3 separate regions of the Homo sapiens genome follow, and regions 1 and 2 are each linked to region 3. Evidence: fine-mapped expression QTL. A gene starts in region 3. Each other region holds a variant in brackets. All regions are shown on one strand. Distances are between the middles of the regions.

Region 1 (10,407 bases), 29 kb before region 3:
GAAGGAGTGGCAGTTAAACACCAAGCTTCAAAGAGTTGAGGATTTTCAAAAATCGCTTTTGGGGAATCTGCAGCTTTTATTGGAGGTGTCAGACATTAATGAGGGTTCTGGATCATTCCCAGCCTGCAGAGCCCTCTCTTCCTCTCTTCTCCGCCCCCACTCATTCCAGCAACCAACTTCCCCACTTTGATGAATCAGGAGAGGCTGAGAGTTCAAGGGGGTATTTCTGTCCCACTCTCAGCCCACCTTCTCCCCTTTTGCTTCAAGAAGATGTGGAAGCTGAAAGGACCCAAGATGGGGGAAGAGGGTACAGAACTCAAGGGAAGGGCTGGGGAGCAGGTTCAGACAGAGGCAAAAGAACCCAGCCTTGCTTACCTGCTCCTCTGGAAACAGTTTCGTGGCAAAGAATTAGGAATTCTGGAGCCGCCCGAATGCCAGCTGGGATGAAACCCTCAACACACGATCACTCCCTCTGGGCAATGATCATGCTCTTAGATATTTTGAGATCCTTAAATGGAAGGAGTTGTAGGAGCTACATTTTGTCCAAATACGTAGTTACATATGAGCTTTTCTTGACCGCATTTTCAATGCTGATTGAGTTCCCAGTCTTAGGATGTACCTAGTGAACATGAAAGGTAAGTGGCATATCCAAAACAAAGGTGTGCCTTCCAATTCACTTGGAACAGACAACATGCTCAGAAGTATTTGTGGAATGAATGCATGCATTTGCATATGCGTGAATGAATGAATGAGCCTGTTTTATCCTTCTCTTTATTTACGAAATGAAGACATTAGATTAGATGTTAGAAATTAGACACTGGATTAGATTAGACATTTAGTTTAGACATTAGAAATTACTCTTGCTGGTTAGGGATTGGAAACTCTGAAAAGACTATACCATGAGTTGTTAAAGGAGAGGTCCACTGTCCTACTCATGTTTCAATAAATGACGGATGGATGGATGGATGGATGAGTGGAGGAATATACAGTATTTTGACCCCTGGAGTTCTAGGGGAAGAATAAGACAAACATATATCATTAGTCCTGCCTGAGGCAGGAGGATGGACAAGATGACCTATTGGGTCTATTTCCAACCCAAGTATTAGTATCTATAGCCAGAATGTGCAATCAGAAACATTTGTGGCTAGACCCTGAGAAGATGTCATTACTCAGGTTTCTTAAAAGTTATTTTTCGCTAACTTGTGAACAGCCCTCAGGAAACTCAGTCTCTCACACTGGGGCAGGGTGGTCATCTCCACCGCTGGCCCCTGGAGCCCTCTTCTGATGCCAGTAACCATGATGACTCAACACGGTCACCCATCAGAGTCCAGGGCTCCTCCATTCTACTCAGAGAAATCCCCTGAAAGAAACTGGGGAAAGAGTTCTGTGCTTTTCTGAACACCTTCGTCCTGGAGAATGTGTCCCAGGTCAAATATAGAGAAGTGAAATGGAGATATACAAGGCTTATTGGTTCATTCCACTTGAGGAGCAGGTGGATCTTAAGAGCAATACACTGGTGGAAAGTTCACTTTTTAACTTCCAAGAACCAACAAAGAAAGGAGCCCACCTGACATTGACCTTGAGATAGACTTCTGTCCCATTCTTCTCCAGACCTCTTGGTCTCTCTCTTTGACTTCCTACCCTTTTCCTAAAGTCCCTTCTTTCTGGTTGCCTGGACCAGTGTCCCTGCCCCATCCCTTCCCACAGAAAGCCCCCTTATTGATGGCCTAGCTGGCATCAGTGTGATGGAAGCCTTTTAGTCTCCCATGGGAGAGCTGTGGTCGATGTCCTCAGTAGCCTAGAAGCAAGCCTGTCTCCATCCATGATGAGCACTAGCTTTTTTCTCAGCACCAATTATCTGGTCTCTTATGAAGAAGGGCTATCTTTCTGAGCTTGTCTTTGACCCTGCCCCTTATAAAACAATAGCCCCAGCATTAATTCATCTAAGGAGCATCACCCGTTCCTGAGCTTGGCTTATAGTAGAAGTGTCACCATGTCGGTTGTTCACTGTTCTCAGCATCTGGAATGACTAATGGTAGTCAGACTAATTCCTAACATCACCAGGATGAAAGGTAGGGAGGCCGCCTGTGAGTTCATTCTGCCATAAGAATTATCACAGAGAATGATCCATCCAACTAGGTCCTGTCTCTGACAGGGGTGAGGAGCATATGCTATTCTCATGATGTCCCATTGAAACGCTAGTGGGGGATGCGTCCAATAGTTTTATTCCCCCAGTTGACATTTATGCATGACTTGATCCTTTGTAGTTTACCCAATGTGTTCATGCACATTGTGTCTTCTAATCCAACTTTAGGAGGCTGATAGCATCGTTGTCTCCATCACACAGTAAGGAAGCTAAAATTTGGAGACTTGTCCAAGGTCATATAATTGATAAAAGGCTGAGTAAAGCCTAGAACACAGGTGCCCTGACCCTTCTGGCTTCTCCACTTTACCCCTTTAAGACATGTATATATTTCACCTAGAAGTCATATTGGTACTGAGACTGCTACTACACCAGCTGAGAGTTATAAAACCACTTTCCTCTTCGCCAGACAGGGCTAGAAGCTGGAGTTCTGAAGCTGCAGAGAGACAAAGGCCAGCACTTCTGATCCTCTAAAGCTTGGAAAGAAACCACATCATGAACAAAGACAGCTCATTGTATAATCTAGGGAGAGAGAGAAGAGGAGGAAGGGGAAGAGGAAGGAAGGAAGAAAGGAAGGAAGGAAGGAGCGGGAGGGAGGGAAGGAAGCAAGGAAGGAAGGAAGGAGAGGGAAGAAGGAAGGAAGGATGGAAGGAAGGAGAGGGAGGGAAGGAAGGAAGGAAGGAGAGGGAGGGAGGTAGGGAAGGAAGGAAGGAAGGAAGAGGGAGGGAGGGAGGGAAGGAAGGAAGGAAGAGAGACCATCAAACAATTCTCTAAAGATTTCTGGGAAATCACATACTCGATACAGAAACTGCATGCACACACATGTGCACACATGCATGCACACACACACACCCCCCACACACACGTCTGTATGAGGGTGTAATGGAACCAGCATAGGCTCTGGAGCCAGGTGGACCTGGTTAGTTTCCTGGCTCTAACATTACTGCTGTGAGTCTCTAAGTAAATCACCAGATCTCTCTAGGTCTCCTTTTTTCTTCATCTGAGAAGCGAGGGAATTAATACCCATCCAAAGACCTCAAAAAGCTCAAGTGAAATGTTGAGCTAGAGACTGGAGGAGACAGGACTGGGGGACGTGCCCAGTGGGAGGCACAAAAGCCCTAAGGGGAAAGAGTTTGAGACCCTCAGATAACCATCTTAGAAGTCACATTGAGGAAACCATTCTCCAGCATTCACAAACCCCAGAAGAAAGGTCACATTCTTTTCTCCTTACGATTTTGATACCAGGCCCAGTTTCCCTCCCTCTTAAGAATCCTTTCCACCCATCACCACCCTAATGCATCCTCCAGATTTGCCCAGAGGACTCTCAGTTGCCTCTATTCAGCCATGCTGATCTCTTCACCCTTAGCTTGTTTCTGTGCCAGAACCAAAGCCCCGTGGATGGGTAAACCTGAGACAGGCCTGGGCCTTCTGGCCTGAGCTGGGCCTCTCAACGGCGCACTGCAGAAACAGCAGCTGAGAGAGAGGGGCCTCACACTTACGGAGGCTAATGGAGGGCCTGGATATGTCAACCCAGAACTGAGATTTGAAAAGGTCCAGGGAGGGGAAAGGGCCAGGCCCACTGCACTCACTTTACTGACCAATGCCAAGGCCAAGGGCAAAACTGAGAGTCTGAGGTTGTTGAGCAAATAAGCTGAGCTAGCCTAGAGCTCTGCAAGAGAACAAAAGGAGGTGGAGATGGTGGTAGCCACCAAGGGCCAGAGAGGGAAGCTGGGCATTGATGAGATGGACAGTCTGCAGCCACAGGTGCCCCTGGACATCAATTCAGTGGACTGAGTCAGCAACCCAAGCTGGAGGCGTGGAGAAGGCGATTGGGCTGGAACAGGCCCCTTCAGAAATAAGCGTGGGTGATGAGCTGGGAAGGAAACAGAGGCAGCTACATCAAGCAGGCCCCTGGGAAGCTCCAGCGTTAGTGGCCCAGCACTGTTGCCGTGTTCCCAGGGCAGCTTTGATCCCCAGCACATGGAGTATCACCACAGGGGCCGGCAGTCTCTGTTGGGGGAGCCAGCCCCTCTCCTCCTTGCTGCCTCATTAAATCAGACCCTCCCCTACTCCCACTCTTCTTTGCGCAATATCTTGGATTTTCTTCTGCCCCCGACTTCCCCACAACACCCCACCCTCACACTCCTTCTTATTCCAGCCTTTCTCCTCCCTGACTCAGCAAGCGGGGAGCTGCCTCATCCAAGCCTAGAAGGGCAGGAACAGACACCCTTTGAAAGCTCCTCCGTGGCAACCTGCATCCTACTCCTGGCTGTGTGACCTGAAGCATTCCATGACCTCCCTGTGCATTGTTCCTTAAGAGAAGCGAAGAAGATTCCCGCCAGCCCCTGTACTCTGTAATTCTCATCTTCTATGCAATATTAGTGGGGATGGAATCTCCTATATTCTAGACGCTGAGCCAAGGAGCTTCAAGGCACTTGAAGTTCCGAGAAGTTAAAGCAATTACCCAAGATTGCACAGCCAGGCAGCAACCGAGCCAGGATTTAGAACTGTGATCTGTTTGCTTCAGGCCAGGTACACAAGAGCCTCAGCAGTTATTAAATGATTGGCTACAGATGATTTACAGATTTTTTTTTTTTTGAGATGGAGTTTCGCTCTTGTTGCCTAGGCTGGAGTGCAATGGCACAATCTCGACTCACTGCAACCTCTGCCTCCCGGGTTCAAGCAATTCTCCTGCCTCAGCCTCCAGAGTAGCTGGGATTACAGGCATGTGCCACCATGCCCAGCTAATTTTGAATTTTTAGTAGAGACAGGGTTTCCCCATGTTGGTCAGGCTGGTCTCGAACACCCGCCTCAGCCTTCCAAAGTGCTCGGATTACAGGCGTGCGGAACACCACACCCAGCCCAGATGAATATTTTAACAGTGACAGGGAGAGAAAGTCAGTGGGGTGTGCTGGCTGTAACAGCTCAGGGTCCCCAAGGCTGGCTGGGTCTATTACTAGAATCTGTTCACTCACCTTGTTCCCCTCTCTCCACTTGGGAATGCACAGCCTCTTCAGGATCCCCACAAGTAACAACAATGTCAGGGGGACCCACTGAATGGCCCCCTGGGAAATTCCAGCCCAGCTAATACACCCTCGGGGTCCTGTGCAGGACCCTGATCTCCTCTACAGGGAGTGACAGGGAAGGACACAGCTCTCACTTCCTCTGCAACGGGCCCCTGCAGCCCAGAGCTTGGGGCAGGAGCCTGGGGGAATTGGCTTGCGAGGAAGTCCTGGGTTTCCTGGGCATCTGACTCA[C/A]GGCCTAATTCAGGGGAAAGTTGCCTCCACCCAGCCTGGGCCCCAGCTTTCTCCTGTTAATTGAGACAATGACCCAGCTCCCAGGACTGCTTCCAGCTTGAAAGGGGCTTTAAGCTGCCGGGATGAAAGGCTGGGGTTGAGTACAAAGCAGCGCAAGCTGTCCTGGGAGTGGGAGGCTGGCCCTGGGCCTTCTCCAGTGCCCCCACCCCAACAAGGGCTGAGTCACTTCCTCCCTTCTGGCTGGATTTCACCTCAGTCATCCAGACACATCGAACTTTGGAGGGGCAGGTGATGGGGGGTGGAAATGAGGGGACGGAGGGGCAGCGGATGGTCCCAGAGAGTCAGGCAGGAACCTCAGTCACCACCAGAGGTCCCTATCCCTGGAGGGGAGGGAGGTGCTGAGGTCCTTGATGCTGGAGGAGCTGCGATCATGCATCATAGCTGCATGACTCTGCTCTTGATGTGTCTGGGGGAGCAGGATGGCTCATCCAAGAGCATCCTTGGTTACGCGTGAAGTAACCCAGGAACAAAGAGGCAAGGAGATTTCCCAAGGTCTCACAGTACATCTGAGGAAAGAGCAGATCTGAAACCTGTAGGCTCCCAGAGCCCCTCCCATGGGCACCCAGACCCCAGATCACTCACTCATGTACCTGTGAAGCTCCCCCATGAGCTCCATAGCACTGCACTTTGCATTGCGGGGGCACCATAGAACTACAGACACGGTCTTCGCCTTCAAGGAATTTCTTTTGCTGCTAGACTAATGTCTTATTAGTACCTGGAAGGATCACTAGATATTTCAGGATTTAAAACAACAACCAAGAAAGGGATGCTGAGAGGGAATGAGGCAGAGGTGAGAGCTCCTAAGGAAGAGGGTCCCCGGGCTGGCCCCTGCCACCACATCAGCACGACAAGGCCCTCCAGGACATTCTCCTCCTGCTGCCCTCAGGTGCATCCATTATACTAAGCTCACCAAGCCGGGCTCCTCGGGTTCTCTTGACCTGGGGGACCTCAAATCTTCCAGCTCCCAAGGGACTAGTGTTTCCATTCAGCATTCAGCATTCGGACATGTAATTAACAGCCAGAGCCCACTCTGAGCCAGGTCCTGGGCTATGGACAAAGAAGTCCTGGTCCTTGCCCACACAATAGAGAGGAACCATCTGCAGCCACTGGGCTGAAAGTCGCCTGTGCTGAACTGGGAGTCGGTACAGGCAGGATGCTGTGAGGGCCAGGGAAGCAAGTGCGATCGGGTTAACTCAAAGCACAGAAGACAACTCACTTGAACTTTGGAACCAAGACCCTTCCTCTTTCCTGTTTTGAGCCATCTCCCCCCAATTCAAGGCCTACCCTGTCATTCCTGACCTAGTGGAGGTCAAACTAAACCAGCCTGACCTAGTGGAGCTCAAATCAAGCTCTAAGCAGTTTCTTCCACTGGGCGCTTTCTCATCCTTGGAAACTCGCCAAGTGGAGATAATAATGGCATTAGTGGGTTGCGTGAACATGTATGAAGTCTTAGGACAGCACCTAGGTAGGGGGCAGGTGCCTCAGCCATTCTTGTTCCTTTCCTCTTGGTACTTTCAAATCCACGTGTATTCGAAAGCAATGGGAAGTGTTTGTGTAAACCGTGAAGAAGTCTCCAAAAGCATGGGTGGTTAAAAACCAGCACCCTAGCGTAAGGGAGACTGTGCAGTGATGGTAGTGGAGGGCTTTACCACAGAGGAGGTGCAGGCCTTTCTGTTGTTTGAAGTGGCTTGGGTGGAGTCTGGCCCGGAGGCAGGGGGCTCCCTGCAAGGACCTCTCAGGTTCCCTTTTAGTTGGGCCCATCTGAAGGTTGCAGAGAAGACACAGAGGGGTGGAGTATAAGCGACCCGTGGGCTTGTTTTTGCTAGTTTTCTGGGTGCAGGGCTTGCTCCTCCTGGCACTGGTCCTTCCTGGGGCCCTCGGCTCCAGCTTGTTAGTTTTAACTGGAACAATTTCCTTTGAACTCAGTTTGAATGAGCATCACCATGGCGATGGATCAGGGTTTTCACAAGTCGACCTGGTCTTCACCCCTTAAGCAATTAGTTCGAAGGAGAAAAGGAGAAAGAGGAGGAGGGAAGAGGGGAGGTGGGGGAGAAAATGGAAAGGAAGGGAAGGGGAGAGGAGGAAGAGGAGGAAAACTGGAGAAAGAGAAGTAATGAGGAAGGAGAAGAGGACGACACAGGAAAGATGAGGAGGAGGAGGAGGAGGAAGGTAAGGAGGCTGGGGAGGATGTGGCAGGAGGAGGGAGAAGGTAGGAAGTAGAGGAGAACCATTCTGCCAGGCTAAGCCCAGGGGCCTAGAGTACTCCAGAGGCCCTTGACCTTCCCAGCCTTTCCCACAGCCCCACCTACTGGGAGAAGCCAGAGAAGCAAAGGAACCAGATCTTTGACCTGCAGCCTGAGAGGAAGGACACTGTTCCAACTTTCTGCAGGGTCACCCAGGAGCCTGCTCATGAGCAGTCAGCACCCAGGCGACAAGCCCACCTTCATTCAGCCTCTTTCTCCTGCAAGACCAGGCTAGGAGGACACAAGAGCAGGGGCTTCGAGTCTGAGAACTGAGGAGAGGTGGCGGGTCCCCTAGGTACTTGCCCTAGAACCTTGGGCAAGCCAGCAGCCTCTGTCAAATGGCAAGGATGGCTCCTCTTCCTTGGGTTCAGGGAAGGAGTGTCAAGTGAGAAGGCTGGTTGCTCACAGGGGTTCTGTGCACTCCGAGAGCCCTGGCACAGACTCCACATGGTCTCCAGGGGCTCACTGCTTGCCTGCTTGTCAGCTCTCTCACTTGGCTGGGAGCTTCAGGGAGGCAGTGACTAGGTCTTCATCATCGTTGAATTTCTAGACACTAGCACAATGCCTGGCATGTTACATAGGCAATAAGTATTTTTCTGATGAATTAATGATTGATGAATTATTGTTATTTTTCCCAAAAATGGGTGGCAAGACTGGGGAAAGGAGACTAGCAAGCCTGAACCCACTAGAATTTGATAGAGATGAGATCTCCCTTTCTTCAGGACTCAGTATGTCCCCATGTCCTCCAAGAGGCCCTCCTGGATTTGCCACCCCGCGCCCCACCTCCCCAGACCCTTCACTCTAGAGCCCCACTGTGTTCCATGGCCCCTGCCATCATCCCCATCATCATGCAGTATAATCATTGATTCGCTCATCCATTTCCCCAGCTAGGTCAGCTCCATGAGAGAGGGACTATATCTGGTTCCCCAGGTCCTTGCACACTCCAGGCACGGAGCTGATGCTCTAACCATGTTTGTAAATACACGGACCTGAGTATTCCAGCCAGGGCCAGGTGTCAGGCTTTCTGAGGCCAGTAAAGGCAGTGCCTGGGGGAAACAAGCCTGTGAATGGAGGGCTCACCACACAGCATGCCAAGTGGAAAACAGGCCGGGAGAGGATGGGGGCTCCGGAGAGCTATCACTGATATCTACTCTACAAATGACTGAGGAGGAGAGGTGTTTCCTAGGCCGCCAGCCAGAACTCTGGCTATGAGATATGCCGAAAAGATTTAGGTTAGAAATCAGAATGACAGCCGGGCATGGTGGCTCATGCCTATAATCTCAGCACTTTGGGAGGCTGAGGCAGAAGGATCACCTGAGGTCAGGATTTTGAGACCAGCCTGGCCAACATGGTGAAACCCTGTCTCTATTAAAAATACAAAAATTAGCTGGGCATGGTGGCAGGCACCTGTGTCGTCACTATCTCCATCTGTCTTCAGAACCGTCCTGCTTCTCCCTCTCTGTCCCCACTTCTTACCCTTTGGCTCCTGTCTGTTTCTCCTTTCGCTCTTGTAACCTCCCTTCCCAGCCCTCACCACTGCTCCAGCCTCTTTTCCCAAGTCCTGCCTTGGCCTCTCTGCCTCTCCCTCCCTCCCCTTTCCTCCTCTGCTGCTCATTATAAAAAATAAATATTTCTAAATACGCCAAAAATGCACTCATCCCCCAAGGACCCCTGTCTAGCACAAAGGGCTGGTTCTTTCTGGCTGCTCCCTGTGGCCTCCTTCTTGCCCACTGCCTTTGAATCGTGGCCTCATTCACATGACTGGAAGGGCTAACAGGGCATTTTCCCACGTGTCCGGGTGGGGAGGAGGACAGGGTCGGGGTGGTAAGTTGGATGAAGGAGGGTGGAGACAGGCAGCTGAGAATCTTCCCAAAATTTGGCTCATCCTCAGGGGAAACAAACTGCTTACTTGATATCATGACTAACTCCTTGGAACCTACAGGATCCATTAGCGATGCGGGAAAGATTCGGGTTAGAAATCAGAATGACCATGCAAACCATGAGGACAGCCACCATGTGGAATGTTTGGTCCCCATGGCACAAAGATTTGGGCTTCTTCCTGGGATGAGTTGGGATCCCTTTGGCATGGAGGCAGAGGGGGGGCTCCGTGATTCCTGGGAGACCCTCTGGATGTGAGCACCTCTGAGATTCTGGAGGGAGCCCAGGGCTCCCTGTGCTCTGTCCTCCCACCCCACACCCCACCCTATGCTCTCTGCTCTCTGGTCAAGTCCCTGGTCCGCGGGAGCACTGACCTAGAGTGTGGAAGCTCCTCCCCTTGAAAGCTGGGCTGACCTTGCTTCAGCTGAGTCCAGGAGAAAACACACATCTGACACACCCCAGGGCTGGGGGAAGGGAGGCAGGAGCAGAGGAGGGGAGCATCCAAGGTCCTGAAGTTCCAGAAGGAGTCCAGCCTTCTCACAGAGCCTGAAGCATAGGCATGGGCAGAGCGGGTGCCGGACCTCCAAATGGCTCTCCCTCTGCACTGTGGAATCACTCCCGCAGGAGGCAGGTGGTGGGAGAAGGCCTTGGCCTCAGCATTCCCCTGCCCTTGTGTCCTCCTGTTCTGAATTTCCTAATCTCTTTCCTGCATGTCCCCTCAACAACCTCCCCTCCCCTCCCTTCCCCACCCCACACCACAGCAGCTGGGCTGCTGGAAGTCGGGAGTGTTTATGAGTTAATCAAAAACTCCTGTACTTTGCTCTTG
Region 2 (10,407 bases), 860 kb before region 3:
AAAGGCTGCCAGGCTAGACCAGTTCTTGGGCTGTCCTTGGTAGAGTGGTTTGGCCTATGGGCTACTCTGTCTCTGTGTGGGGGAAGGGATGGCAGCCAGGAGGAATTCACAAAGGCACGAAATGGTCCCTTAATCCAACTCAGCTGAGGATGCTGAGGTCAAGCCCCTGGCACAGGGTGGCAGTTCTTAAAGGCACAGGCGGTGGCTGAGAACACCCAGCAGAGGAAACTAGGTGCTCTGTGCGGGGATGTGACGAGGGGAGCTCTCCACCCCATCACCCAAGGCACTGAGTGAGCACTTAGGGGGTCGCTGGGAGGGGAGAGAAGTTGCAGGCAGAAGGGAGCCTTAGGTGGTCTGAGAAAGAAGCAGGGTGTAGGGGGTGGACAAAGCCAGCTGCCCACCTTTCCTCCCCACCAGGGTGACAGGGGTATTGGCCAGGCCGGGTCTTTGGAAGGCCCCTGGTAGATCACCGGTGTGACCAGGACAAGAGAGAAGAACATGGCATGAGCAGGGGGACTGGCTGCTCATTCCTGGGACCCCTAAGCCCGCAGGAGAAAGGACAGGGAAGGGGGAGAAGGTGCCCAGGTCTTGGGGAGGGTTGGGGTGTGGAGTCTAGCCACTGGGGCTGTTGCACAGTAGGAAACCTACACCCTGCAAACAAGATTACTTCATGCCTGTTTCTCCATGGGCGAAGTCCTCTTGGAAAATCCCAGCCTAGCCCTGCTGTCCTCAGGGAGAAAGGAAAGGGATTGGTAATCTGTTTTGTGTTAGCCATGCTTAGGCTGAGAGTTTGGCAGGGAGGGAAGTGGGGAGAGAGCCTCATATTTCTGGCTACTATTTGTAGAATGTCTGGGCAAGAGGGCTACATGCAGTTTCTCTCCTTTCATAACTATGAGGTAGCGTCACCATTTTACAAATGCTGGTGCTGGCCTCTGAGAGGTTATGTCACTTTCCCAAGGTCACACAGCTGGTAAGATACAGAGATGAGAGTTGAGCCTAGGAATGGATAGATCTTAGGCTCACGTTTTCTATGATGTACCTCTTTCACCCCACATTGGGGCTGAGGCATGCTGGGGGAGCAGAGGGATCAGAGTGACATGGGGGCAGAGTGAGGAACCCCTTGGGGATGGAAGCAAAGAGGACAGGCTGCCCTCCTTGCACTCAGGAAAGGAGATGCCTCCACCCACAAGTTTTTCTCCATTCGTCCCTGGAGGGTCTTAGTTTGCTTTTGTCTAGGGGGTCAAGCTGTTTCCTAGACCCTTGGAAGTCTAATGGTACATGGTCTTTAGGGAAGAGACTTTTTGGGAGCTGTAGGGACAGGTGCTCTTGGAGAGGATCAGACAGTCCCTGACCACAAAGTACTTCTCATTCTGGGTGGATCAAGACAGAGCAGGATTCCTGCCACACTGTGTGTTAAGAGCCTGGCCACAGGGGCAGCTTCCTGGACAGAGTGGCCCTGCGCTGAGCTTTGAGAATGATGAGCTGGGAGAGCCACGCCCTTGGGTCTGCTCCTCTGAAGCTGCTCGTTCGCTGTGATCATTGAGAGAGAGGTTGCTGTGCCGGGGTCTGGCCAGGCACTGGGCTCATGGAGCCGACTGAGACAAGGTGCCCTCGTCTCAAGGAGCCCCTGCTCTGCTGTGACAGTTCTCAAAGTGGGGCCCGGGGCCTTTTTTTAGAGGACTTGAGAGCTTAGAACTAGGCTCATAATAACACTAAGACATGATGTGCCTTTTTCACACTCATTCATGTTTTCCAGACGCTCCGTGACATGTGATATGACATTGGGGTGAATGCTGAAGGAGACGCGAGTCCAGCTGCCTTCTATTAAGCCAGATGCTAAAGAGATTTGCACAAATATAAAGCCACACTGCCATTCTTACTAATTTTTTTTTTTTGAGACGGAGTTTCGCTCTTGTTGCCCAGGCTGGAGTGCAATGGCGAGATCTCAGCTCACCACAACCTCCACCTCCCGAGTTCAAGGGATTCTCACACCTCAGCCTCCTGAATAGCTGGGATTACAGGCGTGTGCCACCATGCCCAGCTAATTTTGTATTTTTAGTAGAGATAGGGTTTCTCCATGTTGGTCAGGCTGGTCTTGAACTCCTGACCTCAGGTGATCCACCTGCCTCAGCCTCCCAAAGTGCTGGGATTACAGGAGTGAGCCACTGCGCCCGGCCCATTCTTACTAAATTTTTTTTTGTTTCAGAAAATATAGGAGGTTTTTTAAAATTTTTTTTTAATTTTTTTTAATTTACAGTTTTAGTAGAGATGGGGTCTCACTATGTTGGCCAGGCTGGTCTCAAACTCCTGGACTCAAGTAATCCTCCTACCGCAGCCTCCCAAAGTGATGGGATTATATGGTTTAAAAACATTATTGGCCAGGCATGGTGGCTCACGCCTGTAATCCCAGCACTTTGGGAGGCCGAGGTGGGCGGATCATGAGGTCAGGAGATCGAGACCATCCTGGCTAACACGGTGAAAACTGTCTCTACTAAAAGTACAAAACAAATTAGCCGGGCGTGGTGGTGGGCGCCTGTAGTCCTAGCTCCTTGGGAGGCTAAGGCCCGAGAATGGCGTGAACTCGGGAGGCGGAGCTTGCAGTGAGCCGAGGTTGCGCCACTGCACTCCAGCCTGGGCGACAGAGCGAGACTCCGTCTTACTTTAGCTTGTAAAGGGTTCATTATATTAAAATTTATTGTTTAAAAATTAGTAAGAAAATACTTAAATTTCTCTCGGCTTTAATATTAATTTGGTAAATATTAATAGATAGAACCCACATAAAGCAAAGGTCTTTGGGGTTCTCCATAATTTTTAAGAATGTAAGGGAGGTCGGGTGTGGTGGCTCATGCCTGTAATCCCAGCACTTTGGGAGGCCGAGGCAGGTGGATCACAAGGTCAGGAGATCGAGACCATCCTGGCTAACACAGTGAAACCCCATCTCTACTAAAAATACAAAAAAGTTAGCCAGGCGTGGTGGTGGGCGCCTGTAGTCTCAGCTACTTGGGAGGCTGAGGCAGGAGAATGGCATGAACCTGGGAGGTGGAGCTTGCAGTGAGCTGAGATCGTGTCACTGCACTCCAGCCTGGGTGACAGAGCAAGACTCCGTCTCAAAAAAAAAAAAAGAAAAAAGAATGTAAGGGGGTCAGCTGGGTGCGGTGGCTCACGCCTGTAATCCCAGCACTTTGGGAGGCTGAGGTGGGTGGATCACCTGAGGTCAGAAGTTCAAGACCAGCCTGGCCAACATGACGAAACCCCATCTCTACTAAAAATACAAAAATTAGCCGGGCATCGTGGTGAACGCCTGTAGTCCTGGCTACTTGGGAGGCTGAGACAGGAGAATTGCTTGAACCCGGGAGGCAGAGGTTGCAGTGAGCCGAGATTGCGCTGCTGCACTCTAGGCTGGGCAACACAGCAAGATTCTGTCTCAAAAAAAAAAAAAAAAAAGAAAAAAAGAATGTGAGGGAGTCTTTTGAGAAGTGTGGTTCACTGGACAGAGATGAAGACAGTTTACTGGGCCGTAAGTCTGGAGATTAAATGCTGGGTAATCCGAAGAAACAATGACTTCCTCTGATGGGGCCAGCAGGAGGACTTCCTGGAAGAGATGAGCCTTTAGTCTAAAGTTTGAGGGTTGAAAAGGATTTGAATAGGCAGAACTTGGGGGTTGGTTAGGGAATTCCAGGAAGGAGGAGAGGCTTAGCACTGTGGCCTGAGGAGCTTGGTCACAACTGGGTCTCAGAACTATTCCTGTGAGTGGGGAGACAACAGAAGGGAGGCCAAGGGGAGGCCTGGAAGACCAGGAAGCTTCTCTCTGCTTTGCTGTTACCCACGGCCATCCTCGACTACACCCAGGATGTAGTAGAGGCCGCAGAGTGCCTCTGTGGGCACAGGCACTCCTGCAACTGTCTGCGTTATGAAGGGGTTTCTGGAGGAAAGGAGGGGAGCCAGGGGCCAGCTCAGGGTTGGGGAGTGGCACACCTAAAACACACTGAGAGTGAAATCCACTGCAGACCCCTCAGCTCATTGCCTCACGTCATCCTTATTCCAGCCCCGGTGGCAAGAGGAGGGAGGTAGGTGTTTTCTTCTCATTTTCTGGATGCCACCAAGGCTCCTGGAAGTTAAGTGCCTTTGCCCAAAGTTGTACAGTTGCCCAGGGGCAGGGCTGGGTTGCAGAGCTGGGGCTGTTGGAGTCCTGGTTTCCACTTTTTTTTGTTTTTGTTTTTGTTTTTTTGAGACAGGGTCTTGCTCTGTCACCCAGGCTGGAGTGTGATCACAACTCACTGCAGCCTCCACCTCCCAGGCTCAAGCAATCCTCCTACCTAAGCCTCCCAAGTACCTGAGACTACATGTGTGCACCACCATGCTTGACTAATTTTGTAGAGAAGGGATCCCCCTATGTTGCCAGGTCTCGAACTCCTGGGCTCAAGCAATTCTCCTGCCTCGGCCATAGGCTTCCCTAGTCTTTAGAAGCATGAGAGATAGCAGCTCAATCCCATTACTACCTCCAAGAGGCAGATGCCCCCAAATATCAGAAAATTGGAAAAGCCAATTCCTTGATTTTGGAATCCCTATTTAACGGGCACTCTGTTTAGTTTGGGCAATGCTATACTTACATACATCAAGTGTATTGTTAAGGAAGAGAAGATAGAAGCATCCAGAGAGATGAGAGGAATTAAATATTTGCTAAATAGGGACAGTGTTGGTTTAAAAAAAAATTTGCTGAGGATCACCCACCATGAGAATCTCAGTGGAGCTTTGATGGTATAGTCCTGGAAATGGGAGTTGAGCGGGGGAAATGGAAGTTTGTTG[A/G]GTTGTTGAGTACCTACTATGTGCCAGACACCCACCCATCCCATCCCCTCCCCTCCTCTGTCCTCCCCTCCCCTCCCCTCTCCTCTCCTCTTTCCTTTCTCCCTTTCCTTTCCTCTCTCTCTCCCCTCTTCCTTCGTTTTTTTTTTTTTTTTTGTGTGTGTGCATGTGTGTGTGTGACAGGTTCTTGTTCTGTTGCTTAGGCTAGAGTGCACTGGTGTGACCACGGTTCACTGCAGCCTCAACCTCCTGGTCAATTGATCCTCCCACCTCAGCCTCCCAAGTGGCTGGGACTACAGGTGCATGGTGCTATGTCTGGCTAATTTTTGTACTTTTTGTAGAGACAGAGTTTTACCATGTTACCCAGGCTGGTTTCAAACTCCTGGGCTAAAGTTATCTGCCCATCTTGGCCTCCCAAAGTGTTGGAATTACAGGCATGAGCCACTGTGCCTGGCCAGACACTGTTTTTCTTAACTGGCACTCACAACTCTGAATAGGTAATGTTATGCTCAGATTACAGATGAGGAAATTGAGGCTCAGAGAGATTAAGTAACTTGCTTGGGCTGTGAATGTTAGTCTCTTTCTGCTGCCTCCTGCATCCTGCACAGGTGCTTGTTTCTGCTCGTAGAGCAATGAAGGATGGGGACCCTCAGAGGTGTCCAGCTCAGACAGACCTACTAGGGTCCAGGTAGGAGGCAGATCATGGTGGTTTTGCTGTTGGGTATGTGTGAATGTCACACTGCTGTTTGGCTCAGTTCCTAATAGATGCAGGGTTGGAAAATTTGCTGCAGAAAGTCCTGCAAAATGCTGTCAATTATTCAAACTAAAGACAGAGTACTCGGAAAGAGAACTGGGTAGGGAGTCAAGATACCCAGGTTCCATCCTGTCTCTGCTTCTGACATGCTATGTGGCCTTGAGCAAGTCTTCTCTAGGGCTCAGTATCCTCACTGCCAAATCGAGATCATGGACAAGGTGACCTCTATGATCTAACTCTAAAGCTTTGTAGAGGCCGGGCATGGTGGCTTACGCCTGTAATCCCAGCAGTTTGGGAGGTCAAGGCGGGTGGATCACCTGAGGTCAGGAGTTCGAGACCAGCCTGGCCAACATGGTGAAACCCTGTCTCTACTAAAAATACAAAATTAGTCAGGCATGGTGGTGCATGCCTGTAATCCCAGCTACTCGGGAGGCTGAGGCAGGAGAATCGCTTGAACCCGGGAGGTGGAGGTTGCAGTGAGCCGAGATCACATGACTGCACTCTCACCCTGGGTGACACAGTGAGACTCTGTCTCAAAAAATAAATAAATAAAAAAATATATAAAATATAGCTTTATAGAAAGAAGTAAGCATTCTGAGCATTGGTCACTTAAAAAAATTCTATAAACTGGAACCAGGGAACTAGAGTTAAGTTCCGTATCTTGGGACTTGAGCATGTGTTTAGAGGAAAAGTGACTTAGAATGATTGATAACATGGGAGTGGAGACCTTCAAGATCCACAAGTCCTATCTCAGTAATTTGCAGATGAGGCACGGAGGCCCAGAAAGAGGGAGGTTCTTGTTCAAGGTCACACAAGAGCAGTTGCAGGGGAAGCCCCTCCCCTAGGGAGAGGCCTGCTGGATCAAGAGCAAACAATGAGGGAAGAGAGCCAAGTTGCTAGGAGGCAAAGCTTGATGGACAAAAAAACGTGGGGACAGACCTGCGTGTGTTTGTGCTCTGTGTAACACTAGGACCTGTTGCCATGGGGATGAGAAAGCACCACAGATTAATTACTGAAGAGCTGGGAGCAAGGGTGGCGGACCTGAGTGGAGCCCCTGCCCTCAATGTCTCCTAGAGTCCATCTGTTCCCCAGTGGAAGACAGCAAAAATTACAGGGCTGCTTCTACCTCCAGTGAAGAACTAGTCAGAGTACAGCCATTCACTTTGCTACAAGCCTCATGTTTTTATTTTGAGGGGATCCTGTTTGCCTGCGGCTTGGGGGCAATCATCAGGGTAAGATTTCCAATCACAGCCTGGGTCAGGCCACCCTCAGGGCAGGCCAGGGAAGTTTGGGTCCCTCAGGGAGAAATTCCAAGTTTTAAGTCACTGTCATTTTCAATCCCTCTTCTTCACTCTTGGGAAATGCTTAGAAAAATGCCCCCACAACTGTCCCCCTCCATGAGGTGGGTTTGATAGCAGCACACAGGCCTTAAGTGACAGCAGGTGCTTCTGTCTCAGCAAGGATGGAATAGTCAGGCCTTTATTTTTCAGTGTCTGGAGCAGTGAAGGCAGTGAGGAAGAATCCTGATGAAACACTCCAGGCTCACCTGGTGGAGCCTTCAGCTTCCCTAGTTCTAAGACCAGCAGCAGAAATGGAAAAGCTGAACAGTGCTAATGAAGAGGTGACACCAAAGGAGACGTGGGTCACCGAGTGCACCAAAGGCATCACCTCTTTTAGGGGTTAAATCTGAAGTCTTGAGAAAAAGCACTTTAGGGAACAAAGCCTGTAACATAAAGGTAACTGTTTCTAAGTATTAGGTGGTAAAGCTGAGATCTTTGACTTATCAAAGACTAAGCCCTGGCTGGGCGTGGTGGCTCACGCCTGTAATCTCAGCACTTTGGGAGGCCGAGTCAGGCAGATCACCTGAGGTCAGGAGTTCGAGACCAGCCTGACCAACATGGAGACACCCCCGTCTCTACTAAAAATAGAAAAATAGCTGGTCGTGGTGGCGTATGCCTGTAATCCCAGCTACTGGGAGGCTGAGGCAGGAGAATCGCTTGAACCCAGGAGATGGAGGTTGCAGTGAGCTGAGATCATGCCATTGCGCTCCAGCCTGGGCAACAAGAGTGAAACTCTGTCTCAAAAAAAAAAAAAAAAAAAAAAAAAGACTAAGCCCTGGTCACTCCACATCCAGGTAATGATACTCTGCTCTAAGAGCAAGTTTTGCTATATTTGACATCTGCTGGAGAGATGTATTTTATCTTATCATAGGTCTGTGAAAACACCCAAGTGTTTCTTTTTTCATAGAGACAGGGTCTCACTATGTTGCCCAGGCTGGTCTCAAACTCCTGGCCTTAAGCCATCCTCTCACTTCAACTTCTTGAATTACTGGTGTGAGCCACCATGCCCAGCCCCAAGAGTTTCAACCAAGAATTAAGAGAGTAGCCCATACCAGCATTAAAAAGTAGACAGTTCATTAAAAAAAAAAATGGACATGTGAAAACCATGTCACATAGGAGAATGTCCTGATTCTTAGGAGATGTATGCTCAAGTATTTAGAAGTGGTGATATAACACCTCACCTGAAAATGTTTCGGCAGACAGAATAAAGTACAGTTGACCTTTGAACAATGCGGGCTTGAACTGTGTGGGTCCACTTTCACGTGGATTTTTTCAACCAAATAAGGATAGAAAATACTGCATTTGTAAGATGCAAAACCCACATATATAGAAGGCTGATTTTCATATACGCAGGTTCTGCAGGGGTGACCTTGGGACTTGAATATGGTGCAGATTTTGGTATGTGTGTATCTTGGAACCAATCTCCCTGTGTATACTGGGGGATGGCTGTATATTTAAATGTGTTTGTAAACAATTGGTGAATCCAGATGAAGAATATAGTGTCCAAAATATGTATTGTTTCAGTTTTTAAAAAATTAAACTTAAATGTTCAAACTAAAAAGTGGGTAACTTTTTCCAGAAACTTGGAATTTACAAACTGGTTGAAACAATGAAATAGATGGCCCCTAATATACTAGGAGCCCTTCCTAGATTCAAACACTCCCAAATCAAGATTCCAACATCTGCCAACTGATTTCTCAAAGCTATTATTTATTCTGTACAAGGTTCCACTGTACATTAGACATTCTTCTACTCTTGCTTACACAGTAAACAAGTGTACACTTGCCCTTGGGCTCAGGTTCACAGGTCTTCTCTGGAGAAGGGTGTCAGGCCAGTAAAACTCAGGGTGTCTTTCTCTGATGCCTCCTCCTAGGAGCCTGGAATGTGCCAGGCTCCACGGGGCACAAGCCGGGCCCAGCTGTGTGGGTGAACAGCTTTACTCTCCAGGACAGCACAGAGTTTTATCCAACTATGTAGGGCAAAATTGAGCCCACAGGAAAGAACCATACAACTGAGGCAAGATGTCCCCAAATACCCAGGCTCCAGCTCCCAGGGCAGGACTGGAGACCAGCGCTAAGAAGAGCTGAGGGGTGGCCTGGGCATCCCTGAGAAACTCGGTCCAAAGGGCCTATTGTCTAGGAGGCTCTGAGAAGGGGGCGGGGGCAGGAAGGCCAGGGGGAAAGGGATGTTAAGAGAATAAATAAAAGGGAGAGAAGCTCTAGGGACGAGGGGCTTGTGCTATCCTTCAAACAGCTGGGGAGCAGACCAGGGGTGGGCTAGAGGACGTGGGCGGGAAGAACTTGATGCCCTGTCGGAAGGAATCTACCTGCTTTCTTCTTTGCCTCACTGCAATGCACAACGAGCCAGGGCTAAGGGCAGGATCCCTTTCCCAGGCGGGTTTGAACAGAGCACTGGGGAAAAGGGAAGAGGCTGAGGGATATTTCAGGAGGGGCAGTTACCCCCTGGTCCCCAAATGCTATAAGGCACAATTCTTGGAGGCAACTAAATTCCATTCAAAACATTAAAAAAAAAAAAAAAAAACCCAAACCCCCAAAACAGAAACTTGTTTTAGATCCCAGGTCTACTGTGGCTGTGCTTGGGGCCTGGCCAACGCCCACCTAGCACCACGGAGGGCTAGCATTAGAAAGTTGTACTTGGAAAAGCAATAAAAGGACCAGTGCAACGTCCCAGCTATGAAGAGGCCTGAAGGAGAGCACTCCAGTCTGAACACTTTAGTTATGGAAATTAAAAAAAAAAAGTTGGGCTTTTTAAAAACCAAAACCAGCGTTTTCCAAAGATGTCCCTTCGTCTGTCCCCTGGAGTTAGCAGCGTGAAGAGGGCTCTTGGCTCATGGCTCTGGACCGGCGAGCCGTGCGGGTGGAGATGGGCGCCGGCTCCTCCGCGGCGCGGGCGTCCAGGCGGTGATGCTCCCAGCGAGCTCCAGAGGGCGCTGTCCCCTCGGAGGCGCGGGCGCTGCGGCGGGAAGCGGCGCAGCGAGGGTCTTCCCCCCCAAGACACAGTTGTTTCTGACACATAGGAAGACCACAAGTTTACAAATGCAAACGCCGAGGGCACGGGGCGATGCTGGCTCCACGTCCAGGCGATCTTCCCTGCCGGGCCACAGCTCAGGAAAGCCCGGCTCCTTGCTCCAGACCCTGATCAGGCTGCATCCACTCCTGCTCGGCAGCTTCAGGTTTGTTTTTCTCTTGTCAGGTTTGTGTGTTGTTGTTGTTGTTTTGTTTTTGTCTTTTTAAAAAATTTAGGGAGCGGGGCCACCACGGGGAAGGGAGAAGGGACGTGGCTCCTGGCGCTACATTCGGGAGGGCGGGCTGGCCAGTTCGTAGAAGAGCAGGTAGGCGTCGCTGGTGCGCACTTGGCTGGAGGACATGGGAGTGACGCTGCGGAGAGAGCGGGGAGTCAGCCCGGAGCGGGCAGGACCGGGAGACCCCCCGCCGGCTTCTTTCTGTGCCCCCGAGGCCGGCCGGCCTGCCTTTCAGGGAGCCTCCCCAC
Region 3 (10,407 bases):
GAGATGTCATTATTGAGCACCTTCTGCATACAAAGCACCATGCTGGGCATAAGGTGGACGCAAAGAGGGGCCAGGTTCAGCCTACAAAGACCGTGAGTGAAGGCGGTGACATGGAGCTCTGTGCCATGTCAAAGGAGGAGACGAGCCCTGGCTTCAGAACACCAGGCTTCTAATCTGAGCGGCACCACTTACAGCTGGCCTAGGTTCTTTTGTAGCCTCTGGTTTCAAACACAAATGCTGTGAAATAATTATAGCAAGAGGCAGAGGGTGAAAGGCACCTGAAGAGCTACCATAAAGGCAATCCCAGGGCTTCTCCCCAGCTACCCAACCTTAATTCATGGTGCCACAGCCTACGCAAGCCAGAACCAGGAGTTGCCCTTGACCGCTCCTGCTCACTTGCCCCAGTCCAAAGAAACATCAAATCCTACTCCCCCGTGTTGCTGAATTCCAACCCCTCTCCACACCCCTACTGCCACCACCACCACCCCACTCATCAGCACTACTTGTCATGGCCACAATCCATTTCCTGAGCACAATATTTTTAAAATACAAGTCTGATCATGTCACCCCTTATATAACACCTTTCGATGACTGCCCATTGATCTTAGGAAAACAAAACAAAACCAAGCCCAGTGCTAATATTGCCTCCAAGGCCCTGCGTTTCTTGGGCCCTGCCAAACTGTACTGCATGATTTCAAGCAACTCTTCACCCCCGTCATGCCCTAGCTACCTGGTGATGTTTCTGGGAAGCCCACCAGACTCAGGTCCTGTACACAAGCTGTTTCCTTTGCCTGGAACATTGTCTTTGCTGGTCAATGCTGATTCATCTTTTAAGATTAGGCTACACCTGGAAAAGCCTTCCAAGAAGGCCTCCTGGTCTAGGCTAGACTCTCCTCTAATTCTCCATTATAACAATTATAATTAAAATATTTTGTTTTGCCATGATTTTATAGCCTGCTTCTCTTGCATGTTCCATCTCAGGGTAAATAATTGTTGCATCTGCCTTGTTCCACTGCTGTGCCCACAGCATCTAGTGCAGTGACTCACTCTTCACGTGCTAGATGACTGAATGAACGAGTGAATGCATGAGTCTGGGGGTGGGGAGCAGGGAAGGCCTCATGGAGGAACTAGCATGGAGGAAAAGAGGTTATGTTTGGGACTTTTTTCTGTTTGTTTGTTTTGAGACAGAGTCTTGCTCTATTGCCCAGGCTAGAGTGCAGTGGCATGATCTTGGCTCACTACAACCTCCGTCACCTAGGTTTAAGCAGTCCTCCTGCCTCAGCCTCTTGAGTAGCTGGGACTACAGGCACACGCCACCATGCCCAGTTAATTTTTGTATTTTTATTAGAAACGGAGTTTCACCATATTGGCCAGGCTGGTCTCGTACTCCTGACCTCCTGATCTGCCTGCCTCGGCCTCCCAAAGTTCTGGGATTACAGGCGTGAGCCATCGTGCCCAGCTATGTTTGGGACTTTCAAGAGTCAATGGGCAACATGGAGCTCTGTGCCGTGTCAAAGGAGGAGACAAGCCCTGGCTTCAGAATGCCAGGCTTCTAATCTGAGCAGCACCACTTACAGCTGGCCTAGGTTCTTTTGTAGCCTCTGGTTTCAAACACAAATACTGTGAAATAATTATAGCAAGAGGCAGAGGGTAAAAGGCACCTGAAGAGCTACCATAATCAATGGACTAATCAATGGACTGAGATCTGCCTTGGCTTGCAGCTCTGATCATCCAGGCTTCCTTTTCCTTCCTGAAAGTCATGGATCCAGCCCACCTCCATGACAACTTCCCTTCTGCCTGGTTTTTCTGCCCGAAAAGAATAGCTTCTCCATGCCTATCCCAGCCATCTCCACTTCTCTTCCCTTTCCACTCAGTATCCCCACCAGCTGTCTCTCCAATCCACTTTCCCACCACACCCTTGATGGATGGAACTGCATAATTGTGTGATGGCGGAAAGCTAATTTGTACTTCTGTGCTGGCAATGAAGTGTCTGGAGCTTTGCAATTGACATTGAGAAGCAGAGGGGATCCCTCACTCCATCCCTGGTTCTCCCTCAAACTCAAATCGCAAATCCTCCACTCTATCTGCAAAGGCCCAGAGACAAAGGGGCTGTAACCTAACCCAAACCAAACAGCCACTCACAGAAAGTCATGGGAAGAAAAAAATCTTTCCAGTCTTGCAAAGACAAGCACCTGGTGGTTCTCTCCCTGTCTCTCGGTAAAGGTCATTGGTTCAGTTTCCCTTTCCACCTCCTGCAGGGTCTTGTCAGCACCTGTTTTCTTGGGCACAGATTGGGAGATGGTTTGGTGTTTCTCTTCCTCCCAAATTAAGGCACACTCAGACCAAAAAGCAAAGGGAAAGTGCCTCCCGAGGTTTTGCTGCTATCCATTTCTCAGTTTCGGAGGTCTCAAGACACAGAAAACTTAGACACCTAAAGAGGATAGAGAGGAAGAAATATTTCTTTTTTATGTATTTATTTTTTTCTTTGAGACCAACTCGCTCTGTTACCCAGGCTGGAATGCAGTGGCACGATCTCAGCTCACTGCAGCCTCTGCCTCCTGGGTTCAAGCGATTCTCGTGCCTCAGTCGCCGGAGTAGCTGGGATTACAGGCGCCCACCACCACACCCGGCTAATTTTTGTATTTTAGTAGAGACGGGTTTTGCCATGTTGGCCAGGCTGGTCTCGAACTACTGACCTCAGGTGATCCACCCGCCTCGGCATCCCAAAGTGTTGGGATTACAGGTGTGAGCCACCGCGCCCAGCCAAAAAAATGTTTCTGAAAGAATATGTGTACATGCACGCGTATACATGTGGCAGGGGGTGAGAGGGAGAGACTTGTATAATCAGAGATTTAGTATGTGATACAATGGGAAAGAATAAACAGAATTAAAGGATAACAGCCACCATTTATTGGATCTGTACTATATGCCAAACATGTTGCGAAATATTTTATGCACAATGTTTCATTTAATTTTCAAAGCAACCCAGTGAGGGAGAAACGTATGCGCCCATTTTACAGTTGAAGAAACAGGCTCACTGACGCACAGCTCATGACTGGGGCCGAGCTCCAGGACTGAGATCCTGATGCCCATTTTCTGAACCACTACTGGCTACTGCTTTCCAAGGGCTAGAGATGAGAAAAAAAAGGAAATTGGTTTATGGTGTGGCAGAGGTCTTGCGATGAGACATGAAGAACTCTCTGACAATGAGGGCTGTTTGGTTGTAGTCGGAGTAATTAGGCTTGTTAGAGCTCTTCCTCTGACGGCCTTTACATTTAAGATGAATGGATGCTTCTATGCCCGGATGGTTTGAGGGAAACGCTGTCTGTTCCCAGCACGGGGCTGGCCTGTTTGAACTAGCTGACGGCTTCACTGGGGATACAGGATTGCCACACGCGAAACCGTTAGATAACAGGAGAAGATAGCGCAGGATGTGAGCCCCGAGTGGGACTGGCAGAAAGTGAGGGCTACCGACAGGCAGAGGCTACTGTGGTTCAAAGCAAGGGCTTTGTGGTCAGGCGGGCAGACTTGTGTTTGAGTCCCGGCTGGCTCTACTGCTTTTGTGACCTTGGGTATGTTGCCTAACCTCTCTAAGCTTTGGTTTCCTAGTCAGTAAAAAGAGCCTAAGAATAGAACCTACTTTGGAGGGATGCCATGAAAATTAAATAAGATGATCCATGTAAAATGCTTGGCACAGAACCTGGACATAATCAAAATACAATGGGGGAGGAGCTGCTATAATAATGACTATTGTTGGAGTCCAGAGGCCGGAGACAGTGGCACAGAACAGAGGGCTAGGTCGGTGGGGAGTCGAGAAAGTCTTCCTGGGAAACCTGAGTTTTGTCCTGGAGCTTGAAGAGGTGGTCAGGTGAAATCAATAGCAAGGCATAGAGATGTAGGTAGGCAGGGCTTATGTAATGGAGTGAGATTTCAAATGCCCTATCACTTTCAAAGAAAAATCTGGTTTGATCTGTGGTTGAAGTAGAGAAGGAAGTTGACTATGGGGAAGAGGTGGGAAAGAGATGAGGTCTTCCATCCTTGTTTCCAAACCCAAAATGTGAACAGAGACAAACCTCAGGGACCTAAACAAGAAATCTGACATCCAGGGCTTCTTTGCCCACTTCTGGGCTGTTGTGGGAGGAGAAGGGGTAAGAGCCTGGGAAATGGCTGAGGGCAGAGCTGGTGGCGGATGGGGACAGGACCTGAAACAAGGGAAGTTAGGAAATGTGGGCGAGGCCCTTAATGACTGTGTGGGCTGACTCATGTGGGAGACCTAGCTTCAAGGCCGCATGGAGATCCAGCATCCTGTCAGGCGGGAGGCCAATTTCAAGACCCTGGGCATCTCTAGTCTAAACGGTTGCCAGCTAAGAGTGGGAGTCCTTAGGGGAGCAATCCTTGTGCTAATCCAATTATTCCCTAACAGCCTGCCTTATCTCCCGGATGTGAAGATGAACTCCTTAGGAGCCAGGTTCTCCAGGAAGGATGCTGCTTGTTTCAGATGCTCTATGTTTTTGTTTTGTTTTGTTTTGTTTTGTTTTGTAGAGACGGAGTCTTCCTCTGTCACCCAGGCTGGAGTGCAGTGGCGCAATTTTGGCTCGCTGCAACTTCTGCCTCCTGGGTTCAAGCAATTCTCCTACCCCAGCCTCCCGAGTAGCTGGGATTACAGGCGCACGCCGCCACACCCAGCTAATTTCTTTTGTATTTTAGTAGAGACGGGATTTCACCTTGTTGCCCAGGTTGGTCTCGAACTCCTGAGCTCAGGCAATCCGCCCGCCTCGGCCTCCCAAAGTGCTAGGATTACAGGCATGAGCCACCGCGTCTGGCCCAGACGCTCTATGCTTAAACATCTGCCAAATACCTGCTGTCAACCACTTATGTCGAGCATCATGTGGGCCTTGTCAAAAATGCTAATCCTCAGTTCTTTTCCCTAGAATCTGATTCCATGGGTTTAGGGATTCGGGAATCTATTTTCTAACAAGCATCCAGGTGATTCTTCAGGAAAGGCAAATTTGGAAAAGGCTGACTTGGTAGTCTCTTAAATTCCCTTCAGTCCTAAATCTAGGCAGCAGAGAGCGGGTAGCGGGAAGGGCCCCTGGATGATAGCAAGAGGCCGATTCTAGCCGGACCCTGCAGTTCACATGGCCCTGTGCTGGGGAAGCCCTAGAAGGGAAGGAGGCTGCAGAGAAGGGAGTTTTCACCCATCAGTAATCAAGGTCCCAACAGAAGTGAAAATGGAAGTCAGGGAACAATTGGTTTTGAGCATCTTCGTGGGGCTTTTTCCCTTGCCTGGGACTGGCAGGACAGTGTAGGTCTGAGCAGCTTCCACGATACACACGGGGACACTTAAGCCCAAAGAATTTTTAAAACGTGCCTAAATTCCACAACTAATCAGAGGAGGCAGCAATCCAGATCTCCTGGTCTTCACCCTTCTTATTGTTGGGGTGCACCGCAGGGCACGCATGTTTCCTTGTGGCTTGTGGGAAAGCCACTGTCGTGGAGCGCCAGCGTCCCGAGTCCCTGGAAATTCTCCCAAGTGACCTGGAATCCAACATTTCCCTGGATTTTCATAGTCTATAATAGAGAGAAAGAACCGGGTCTGCGGTGGTGGGCAGGACTGAGGAAAGGCCGTGAATGCGGGAAGCACGGGAGGCAGGACTGAAAAGGAAAGAGGCACAGGGGCTCACAAAACCTGAGGGCCGCGTCCCAGTGGGTGACCTGACCCATCAAGGTCTAACACCTGGCCGTGGCAAAGCTGGGCGAGAACCCCCGATCCACCCTCCCAGTGTGGGGCAGGGAAAAGGCAGAGTGCAAAGCGAGGTCTGATTTTGCAGAAGCTTTTTAGAAATTCGCTGTCAGAGAAACTGAAAGACCAAACAAAACCCCTAAAAATCCAAGCCCGATTATTTCATCCACGTGGCACAAAAGCAAGCCAAAAAAAAAAAAGCGGGGGGGGGGGGTGGCGGTGCAGGGCGGGGGAAGAGTCACCCGTCCTGCCCCTGCTGGAAGGAAGGGATTTGCCCCGGGAGAGCAAACTTCTGACTCCGCCTGGGTCGCTGACTCCGCGCGGCCGGGCGGGAGGGAGGTCGAGGAGGCCGCTCGCACAAAGCCGCGGAGCCGCTGCCCCCTCTCCCCGCCCCCTGCCCGGCCAACGCCGAAGTGCGGAGAGCAGCCGCGGGCCCTTTAAGGGCCGCGAGGTGCGCGGTCTCTTTAAGGCGGGTCCTGGTGGTTTCTGTTTTCTGAAGGAAGTGACGGGGGGTGGGATTGAATGAAAAGTGCAAAACACAGGCTCGCAGCGCTGGAGCCCGGGGCCGCGGAGCCGGGCCGGGGCAGCGCCGTCTCCGCCTCGGGGCCGCCGGGGGCGCCCTGCTGAGCGCTACCCACGTGCGTCCGCGCCACCTCGCGGGCGACCCCGCGGCCAAGGCCCCCGGCGGAGCGGCTCCCGGGCGCCCCGAACTAGCCCCCAACTTTGGGCGAAGTTTGCCTGCGCCTCTCCCCGCCCCCACGCGGCGCGCCGGGGCCGCGGACGGCAGCGGCCCCCGGGGATGCGCCTTCCCGGGGTACCCCTGGCGCGCCCTGCGCTGCTGCTGCTGCTGCCGCTGCTCGCGCCGCTGCTGGGAACGGGTGCGCCGGCCGAGCTGCGGGTCCGCGTGCGGCTGCCGGACGGCCAGGTGACCGAGGAGAGCCTGCAGGCGGACAGCGACGCGGACAGCATCAGCCTCGAGCTGCGCAAGCCCGACGGCACCCTCGTCTCCTTCACCGCCGACTTCAAGAAGGTGAGGCGCCCTCACTCGCCGGGGTGGCACCTTCAAGCCTGAGCCCCCCGGGATCCCAGGCGCTCTCTTGCCTGCAGACGGAAAGACGGGCCCAGGAGGGAGACGCAGCTGGCCCAAGGTCACGCCGGGCTCTTCTCTACACCTCTTTGCCCACTCCCCAGGGCCCACCCCTTCATTCTCTCCAAAGAACCCCTCTGCTTCCCTTTCTCACTCCCTCCTCCAGCGCTCCCAGAGCCCCCCAGGTGCTAACCCTCCTCCAGAACTCCTACTAACGACTGGACTCCCTTCTTGGAGTCATTCCCCTGTGCTCTAGTGGGAAAGTCCTAGGCGAAGTGTTCTCGCTGTGGGCTCTCACTGTGGGTTCTCCCTGTGTGATCTAGAGCAAGCAAGCCTCTTTCCTCCTATGGGCCTGGCTTCTCACCCCTGTACAGGGCACTGAGGGGTCTGCGAGGCCTCCCAGCCCTGACATTTTGGAGTCCCTCTGTCACCTCTCCCTCTGTTTCACTTTTCTGGGGAGAGCTGGTTGCCCCTGGTCCCTCTCAAGCCGGGAGAAGCCCTGTCTCCTCTTTGGTCTGGAAGGCTGGGGCGCTTGCAGCAGGAGGATCCTGGAGAGAGACCCCAGCTGAGGCCCCCTCCCTCTGGGAGAAGTGCTGCCCTTCACTCTGCCTGGCAGAGAAGCGAGCCAACCCCCCTATTTTGGCCCAGATTAGGGTTAGGGAGTTAGAGACCAGCCCGGTGGGTGGGTGGGTGGGTGGGTGTGGGTGTGTGGGTGTGTGTCCCAGATTACGGTTTGGGAGTTAGAGACCAGCCCGCTCTTGGTGTGTGTGTGTCTGTGTTGGAGGGAATAAGAAGGGCCTTGCACCCAGGGGGCTGGGGGATTATCAGGAAATGGGCCTGGATGGTGAGTGACTAACAGTGACCCAGCAGCAGGAAAGCTGGAGGAAAAGAGGGTGGGTAAGTCTTAGGTATTCAAAAGGAGCGTTCTGTCTCCTTCCCCCAGCTAAAGAGAGGCCCTGTGAGGCTCTGTCCCTGGGGGAGTGCAGGGGTGAAGCCGATTAGATAGCTGGGGGAGCCCGGGGCCCCGGGGACCCTTGCTGAAGCTGCCTGTCTTTCCTCCCTCGTAGAGACAGGGCGCTTTAGAGGAGAGGTGGCGGAGTTTGGGAAGTCAGTTAGGGACCCAGCCAGATTGCCATAGTTAGCAGGGGTGAGGGGTTAGGCTTGACCGCTAGAGGTGGGTGGGGTTGGGGGGTGAGGCTTGACCGCTGATTGCCCCAGGGCCACGGAGTTGGCACTGACATTGGACATAAGCAGGCAGATGGGGGGTGGGGTAGTGAGCGTTCACAAATGGGAAGACTTTGTAGCCCATCCTTACTCCGCAGGCCTAAGCTAGGCACCCTGCCTCCCCACCTAAACCCTAGGAGAATTTTATCAAGTGTGTTCTGTTCCTGAAAAATCTATGTTAGTGGCTGGATCCATCAGGAATCGGGGATCTAATCTTCTGTCCAAGCCCTTTGTCCTTGAAAGTTAGCCTTAGGCCAGGCTGTGAGGCTCCCAACCCCCTGCCCACTGGATGTCATCTTGTGGCTGCACTAGAATCCTGCAGAGAGACTTCCCTGGCTGTGGCCAGGACAGTGAAAGGCAATGGGTAGGGCTGAGCTTTTATAGCCTTTAGCTACATCTGGAAGGTTTTTATTGCTGTGATCTGAAGGGAGAGGCTAAGAAGTACCCAGGTAGCTGTGATGTGCTGGCAGTAGTGGCTGATGGCGGGGGTGGGGTGCTGGGGATTGGAGTGAGGGTATGCTGGTCATCTGACTGCCCAGTTAGAAAATGCATCTGGAGATTGTGAGCACCTCATTTGAATCTCTACAGTGGTTCAGACCTCCACCCAGGTTTCTAAAGTCTGATTTTCAGGTTAGCCTCTGACCCAGAAGCTACCATTTCATACCCACCTCTGGCATCTCCAATTTCATCAGCAAGGGAGGGAATTGGGAGTGGAAGACACCGAAAGGAAACCAGCTTTCCCAAGTCCCTTTAACTCCAGGTTTCTCCATTGGCCTAGGACGGGGTGGAGTTGGAGAGTGCAGTGTGGGGGAGAATAGCCTTACCCTCACCCAGGCCACTCACTCACTGCCTGCACTGGCCACAGCAGCTTCTATGTCCAGATCCTTCTAGGGTGGGTCACCTCTCAGTTCTCAAGGCCCCATGCCTCATAGTGTTTGTCAGATTTCCATAAGAAAGTTTGGTCTAGAAGGAATGATTTTTCCTATAAGAAAAAGACTTCGGCTCGGTGTGGTGGCTCACATCTGTAATCCCAGGATTTGGGGAGGCTGAGGCAGGCTTATCGCTTGAAACCAGGAATATGAAATCTTCAGGCCAAACGAGACCCCTGTCTCTACAAAAAATTTAAAAATTAGCGGAGCACGCTGGTGTGTGCCTTGTAGTCCCAGCTATTCAAGGAGGCTGAGGCAGGAAAACCACTTGAGCCCAGGAGCTGAGGCTGCACTGAGCTGCAATTGTACTACTGCACTCCAGCCTGGGAAGTCACGCTTTTTGTGTTTCTTGTACCAAACTCATTTGCAGTGATTTGGGAAAAGTCCTCATCTACTTGGGAAGAGCCTTGTTTGCCATTTGATCACGTTGGGGAGAACAGTCCAGACTGAATGAGACAGACTTGGTTTACCACTTATTAGCAGGTTCACCCTGGGCAAGCTACTTGATCTCTCCAGACCTTCATTTCTTCATCTATAAAATGGGGATAATAATAGCACATATCCCACAGTTAGTAGTGCCTATGACATCCTTACTCTGTATTAGATACTGTGTTAAGGGCTCAAGACATAGGAGCTGTTAGCTTTGCAATTGTGGCTCACACAGCATTTCAGCAAGGATCCTCTCTGCTAAACTTGGACTCAAAGACATTGAACAACGGACCCAAGGTCATGCAGAAAAGTCAGTACTGAGCCTGGAGGATCCTTGAGCTCTTCATCTTAACCTTCTCCTTGAAGTGCCAAAATTGCTGGCCAGCCCCTCAGAGCAGGAGCAGCCATCCTTGTCCTGACAGTCCACCCAGGGCAGCAGTGAGCCTCCCTGTGTGGGATGGGACCAAGGCTTCTGTCTGATTCCCAACCCTATCCAGCCCCCTCTCTCCAGCCCTTCCCACCTGTTTGCCTCTACCCGCGTCAGAGTTCTGACAGTCTAACTCTCTCCCACACTACTGCTCTGGACCTTGACGCAGCAAAGCAGTCACAGTCGTCAACCCACTGGAGGACACATAGCCTGGAGCCCAGGTGAGGCTTGCAGACTCAGTAGCTTGGAGCTATCAGATGGCCATCCTGCATTACTGCAAGCCCTGCCCAGAGGCTGAGTGAAGGCCATCAGGCTGACCGAGCCACAGCTCTGAAAGAATGCCGCAGCTCAGTGGCTCCCAGCTTTGCCGCACCTCACAATCACCTGGGGAGCTTTGAAAATTCCCACTGCCTGGGCTGCACACCCTACCAGTGAAATCAGAATATCTCAGGGTGGGAGTCAGGCAGCAGTCGTTTTGGTTTTGTTTTTTCTTTTAAAGAACCCAGGTGATGTAATCCCAGCACTTTGGGAGGCTGAGGCAGGCGGATCACAAGGTCAGCAGTTCGAG

Evidence for each region.
Region 1: its variant is fine-mapped to the expression of OAF in whole blood (TOPMed, PIP 0.94).
Region 2: its variant is fine-mapped to the expression of OAF in vagina (GTEx, PIP 0.98).

Annotation. Positions count from the first base shown.
Region 1 is chr11:120,175,255-120,185,661 of GRCh38, forward strand. It overlaps LOC124902773 (a long non-coding RNA gene), which reads right to left and starts at 10,344. Exons shown (of 2, transcript XR_007062923.1): 1 at 9,996-10,344; 2 at 57-2,665. The variant C/A (reference allele first, on the strand shown) is at 5,401.
Region 2 is chr11:119,346,628-119,357,034 of GRCh38, forward strand. It overlaps USP2 (ubiquitin specific peptidase 2), which reads right to left. Exons shown (of 13, transcript NM_004205.5): 13 at 8,588-10,295. The coding sequence ends at 10,208. MFRP (membrane frizzled-related protein) reads right to left here and starts at 78. Exons shown (of 15, transcript NM_031433.4): 1 at 1-78. It also overlaps a transcript of C1QTNF5 not described here. The variant A/G (reference allele first, on the strand shown) is at 4,807.
Region 3 is chr11:120,204,738-120,215,144 of GRCh38, forward strand. OAF (out at first homolog) reads left to right here and starts at 6,295. Exons shown (of 4, transcript NM_178507.4): 1 at 6,295-6,773. The coding sequence starts at 6,543. RefSeq lists an enhancer at 5,048-5,589 and silencers at 5,923-6,182, 6,363-6,412, 6,503-6,612.